Regions from separate parts of the Homo sapiens genome. Here region 2 is linked to region 1. Evidence: fine-mapped expression QTL. A gene starts in region 1. The other region holds a variant in brackets. All regions are shown on one strand. Distances are between the middles of the regions. Region 1 holds the start of PCGF5 (polycomb group ring finger 5). Region 2 has its middle 75 kb from the start of PCGF5.

The links.
Region 2: its variant is fine-mapped to the expression of PCGF5 in unexposed skin (GTEx, PIP above 0.99). The same link has a PIP of 0.9 or more in sun-exposed skin.

Annotation. Positions count from the first base shown.
Region 1 is chr10:91,219,357-91,222,274 of GRCh38, forward strand. PCGF5 (polycomb group ring finger 5) reads left to right here and starts at 1,307. Exons shown (of 10, transcript NM_032373.5): 1 at 1,307-1,480. RefSeq lists an enhancer at 847-916 and silencers at 1,107-1,416, 1,487-1,946, 1,636-1,930.
Region 2 is chr10:91,143,739-91,146,656 of GRCh38, forward strand. No RefSeq gene overlaps it. Among named protein-coding and RNA genes, the nearest start is that of PCGF5, 75 kb to the right of the region's middle. The variant C/T (reference allele first, on the strand shown) is at 1,407.

The DNA of each region.
Region 1 (2,918 bases):
ATAGTTTCAGACACAAAATAGGAACATACCAAGTCTTTTTTATATATTGTGGTATATATACAGTAATATCCTCCAATGCATATTTTAAACACACTAGAAGTAGTGTGATTTTTCACATACTGTTCTGTTTAGTCTCTGAAATGAAAGATATGAAGCATAAAGAGTAATCCTACTGCCATGAAGTCATTTGACCTCACTTGTTTTCTCTTACTCATTGTGATTGCTGCGACTTATGAAGTTGATCCCAGCTTGGACATTGGCATGTATGATTTTGGAAAATGGTTCTTTAAAGGACTATACGAATGTGGTCATTTAAAGCTGTTTCAGAAAATGTATTGCTCCTGCTGTGATATTAGAAATGGCAATTTTTAAACATGTCAAAGTTTGATTATAAAATGGATAGTTTAAAAAGCTGCCTTGGTCTACTGCTTGATGCATTTTAAATTTGAAATGGATCTTTGAACACTTGTATGGCTGCTGGACTAGCGGTTGTTAAGTTTGTTGGTTTGCCACTTAGAGTCATCTATCACTTTAGTAAGAAGTTAACGCCTATCAGTTGGAGAAAAAGCAAATATTTTGCATTGACAGTCTCCCCTACCCTCTATTATTGTCATTTTCTTAAGCCATCACTGCTCTGGCTTCTAGAATACACATTTTTGAATGAAGGTTTTTGCAGTGAATGGTCTCTTGTAGATCTCAAAGTCCACTAGAAAGAGTACTGGGTTTTTGTTTGTTTTGAACGTTGCAAACAGTAATGCTTCTTTACCACTCACCCTCCCCCCACCCTCAACCTCCACAACGTTCCCGTTTGCTTATAGTTGTCAACGACCATGATCTCTGGACCCACACTACAGTAACAAGTTTGTCAGTCATTTTCAGATAAGGTGCAAATCAAGGGATGGCTTTGTCCCCACTTCGGCGCAGGTGGGACAGACTTGGGGAAGACGCAGCTGAAGAGACAAATTCTCAGGGTGCGTCAGTCTCATCACTGACCGTTGCTTTTAAACCCTCCAGGGAAAATATGCCAGTCATTGTTATGATGTAAACAACCGAAGGGGTGGACGGTGAGGATAAGAAGAACCGAGATAATATTTGGCCAGAGCTACGTGTAGCACAGGGAGCCAGGGCGGCAGCTGCACCTGCGAGCAGCGCAGGCGGCAGGCGCGGCCTCCGGGCGTGGTGGTGGGCGTGGCCGGGCGGCGGGGGCGTGGCCGGGCGGCGGGGCGGGCGGTGCCGCCGGTTGGAAGTGGGTGGAGTTGCCCTTGGAGGCGGCACCGGACCTGGGCCCCGAGGCCCGCCGCGCCCTGTCGGGCCTGAGCCGAGTGGCCCCACAGAGCCGGCGCGCTCCCGCCTGCAGGGGGAGAGCAGACGGGGCGCGGGGACCGGCCAGGCCGCGGCGGGTGCTGTTTCTGTTTCACTTTCCTTCACTCTGAGGCCGGCGCGCTGGCGGGCGAGGAGCGGCGGCGGTGGCGGCCGCTGGGTAGGTACCGGGCGGGCTGGGGAGCTGCAGGGACGCCAGACTCCTCACCCAAGTTTGCGCCTCAGGCGAGAGCGACACCTCCAGACACCTGCCCTGGCCGGCCCAGCCTGGAGCCGGGAGGGCCCTTCGGGTGCAGGGGGCTACCGACCCGGGCGGGGGCTTCGGAGCTGTGCCTACCTCGGCGGGGAGAGCGGCCGGCTGCGGACGCCGGCCCCGGGAAAGGCTGCTCGCTCTCCCCGGCCTGAGCAGCGCGCCCGCGGGGCCTGGGCCCGCGCACCTGCCGGGCGGGCGCGGCTGTGCTGGGACCCCACAGGGCTGTACCGCTGGGTCCTGCCGGAGAACGCAGAAAAGTTCCCCCTTGCCCCCGCCCCGTCATTGCAAGTTCTTGCTTCCCTTAACTGTCTTGGTCACAGGGCTCTGTGCCTTAGGATCTTAGTACCACCCCAGGTCGGGACCGTGCATTTCCTCTTCCAGAGGACTTTCTCTTACTTTGGAGTTTCATGGCAAACCTGTGGGAAAGGCAAGGCAGTTAATCCCAACTTATAGAGGAGGAAGCCGAGACCCAGGCTCAGATATGAAACGGTTTGCTGAAGGTCATACAGGGGTAAGGGCCAGAACCCTGATTCCCTGTCTTTTAATTATGCTTGCTTTCTGTTACACGCACGAATACGGTTTCCCAAGAGGATAGGATGATTACACGTAGAGCCTATTCCCTGCACATTCGCAGTGGGTATGTGTTGATGGAATGCCTTTTACCTTTCCGGTTGCTTTATATTTACCAATGAGTTAACAGCTAAGATGGGGGAAAGTTCCTGTTTATAGAATGCACTTAGGAAAATCAACACCTTTCATGTTGTGTTTTCTGAGAGGATACATATTTTACAGTTAAAAAAAAAAAAAAACCTGAGACAGGAAAGTAGCATTATCCAGGTTATATATCTACTAAATATGACCAGTTTCTATTGAAGAGTTTTTGGTCTAACAAAGAAGGTAAAGAATGAACGTAACTATAAATCAAAATAAAAGGCAAATGTAATAGGAAAGAAGTAAGCATTAAAAACTAGGGAAAGATTGCACTGAGAATAGCATTGGAGAAGGGCTTGAAGGATAGGTGGCATGCAGACAGAGGAGAGAAAGGGCGTGTTGGATAGAGTGCTTAGAACCTGCAGAGGAGACGGTGGGAGAGGAGTGATCCCTTCAGGTTGAAGAAAGTTGTTGAAGGGTATATTAAGGTTAACCTGTAGAAGGTCTTATGTGACAGAATGGGAAACATTTTTCTGTTTGTAAAGAGAAGACACTGACATTCGTTGATAAGAAGACCCAACCAAGTGTCACAAAATAAAATGTGCCTCGTAGCAGAATATAAGATGGACTGCAGGTGGAGAGGTGATATACAAGTAGAGCAGCCGGGCATGGAATAGCAGAGGATATCAACTTG
Region 2 (2,918 bases), 76 kb before region 1:
CCTAACTTACTGGTGCTCATGCCTTGTGGTTCCTCTCCCTTGAGTAGGGATGGGACTTGTGACTTGCTTCTGACAAATGGAGCAAGCTGCTATGTTGTGAGCTGGCCTACAAAGAGGGCCAAGTGGCACACAACTGAGGACAGCCTTTGATTAGTAGCCAGCAAGAAACTGAGGCCCTTAGTGCAACAGCCTGCCAGGAACTGAATGTGGTCAACAACCACATGAGCTTGGAAGCAGATCCCTCCCCAGTCAAGCCTCAGGTCAGACAGCAGCCCCAGGCAACACCTTGATTGCATCCTTTTGCTACCCTGAAGCAGCTAAGCTACCCCTGAACTCCTGATCCACAGGACCTGTGAGATAATCAATGTGCATTGTTTTAAGCCATACATTTTTGATAATAGCGCTAAGCAGCAATAGATAACTAATATACCAATTTTCTTAAAATACCTTCTTAAAAGAAACTATAGCTATAATACGATTCAGGTTTCTGACATACATAAATCCTTATTCCTGTTTTGAAAAGGTTACTTTTTATAAATGTATAATATTTATAAAAGTGTAAGTCTATATACTGTCTCCAATTATGAATGCATAAAATTGTTGTGTATATCTGTCAATATAACACTTATAGAATTATAAGTTCTAAGGAAACTTGGATAGGTGAAGCAACTTGCTCAAGTTCCTATAGCTAGTGACAAATCCAGGAACAAAACTTACCACACTGAAATGTGGTTTTTAGCATTCAAGTGACATATAACCATGGAGAAAGTCTTGACAATCTTCCATTTCTTAAAGTGTATACTATCAAAACCTTTCAAGAACTCCTAAAAGGCAACAATTTTCTCACCTAGAAAGTATACTGCCATATGTAAATGTTAGCATTATAAAACTCATCAGAGCTGAATCAAATGGCTTTTATTTGTATTTGACTCCTTTATTCACTCTAAATTATTTAATGATAAAGGAAAAAATGTTTCTTGGCTTTTCTATTTCACTTGGGTTCTTACTACATATATATGCAGCCATAGTAGATGCCAAGAAAGAAGAAAAATTGCTGCTGGACTCAAAAAGCTGCGAGTTTGAGGTGGCACACATAGATTTTTCTTTGCTAAACAAAAAGCAATCTTAAAAACTTTCCTTTGATCGGGATAAGAAGCATTCATGATAATGCCTGCATGGTACCTGGCATGCAGTAAATGTATGTTATTGTTACTATTGTGCAGCAATGAAAAGGGAGGTGCACAGGGACAGTGTGTACCAAACTTTAAGCAAGTGATGAAGCAAACCACACCACCCTGTTACTTTGTAATTCCCATAATTTTACTTTCATCAGTTTGTCATCCTATTAGATAAAGGCCCTGATAAAAAGAAGAGAATGTTCAGCAGCATGCTGAGAATAACTGGAA[C/T]GATTCATCAAAGTGAACAATTGCCCAACCATTGCTAGATGAGAAAAGTGGCAGAAAGTTGCACCAACATGAACAAATACTCTTGGACTTATGCTAAAAAGCCCCAGCAATGTTAACAGATAAAACTGTGGTGTTGAGCAGACAAAACCTCTATCTCTTCTATGCTTTTTGGTAGACATTTATTGAGCACTTACTGTAGATCAGACACTGCACTAGACACTGGGAATGTAAAAATGAGTAAGACACAGCCTTTGACTTCAATAAAAATAAATTATAATGGAATTCAACAATAGAGAAATATATAAGGACACACAAAGGAATAAAAGATTAACTCTACCAATGGGAGTTAGAGAAAGCTTCTTAGAGAAGGAGACGTCTGAGTTGAGTTTTATGGGATGAATCCGAAAATTATCAGAAAAAAAATAAGGAACAACCAAGTGCAAAAGCACGACAGATTCTTCCCAATTTGAAAACTTACCACAGTAATTAATACAGTGTGGTATAGGCATAAGGATAAACATAACAGATCAATGGAATCGAATTGAGAGTCCAGAAATAAACCTCACATTTAGAGAACTGATTTTTGACAAGAGTGCCAAGACAATTCAATGGGAGAAAGAACAATCTTTCAACAAATGGTTCCGGGACAACCAGATAGCCACATGAAAAAAAAATGAATTGGACCCCTGCTTAACACCATATACAAAAGTCAACTCAAAATGGACCAAAGACCTAAAATGTAAGAGTTAAAACTTTACAACTCTTGGATGAAAATATGGGGGTAAATCTTTGTGATTGTAGATTATGCAACACTTTCTTAGATATGAAACTGAAAGCACAATTGACCAAAAATATTTTTAAAAATTGTATTTCACCAAAATTAAAAACTGTTGTGCTTTCTCAGACACACCACTAGGCAAGTAAAAAGACAGCCTACAGAATGGGAGAAAATATTTGCAAATCATATATTTAATAACAGGCTTGTATCCAGAATATACTAACAAAAACTCTTACAACTCAATAGTTAAAAGATAATTAACAAATTAAATATGCACAAAAAATCAGGATAGACATTTCTCCAAAGAAGATATATAAATGGTCAATAAGCACTTGAAAAGATGCTCAACATCGTTAGCTATAAGGGAATGTAAAACAAAACCACAATGAGACACCACTTCTTGCCCACTAGCATAACTCTAATAAAAAAGACAGACAATAACAAGTGTTGACTAGAATGTGGAGAAATTACAACCCTAATACATGACTGTGAAAATGTAAAATGGTGCAATCACTTTGGAATAACAATTTGGCAGTTCCTCAAGGTTAAACATAAGAGTTACCATATGATCTAGCAATTCCACTCCTAGATATAAGTGTATACCCAAGAGAAAAGAAAACATATGTCTACACAAAAACATGTATGTAAATATTCATAACAGCATTATTAATAATAACCAAAAGTGGAAACAATCCAAATGTCCACCAATTAATGAATGCATAAATATGTGATAT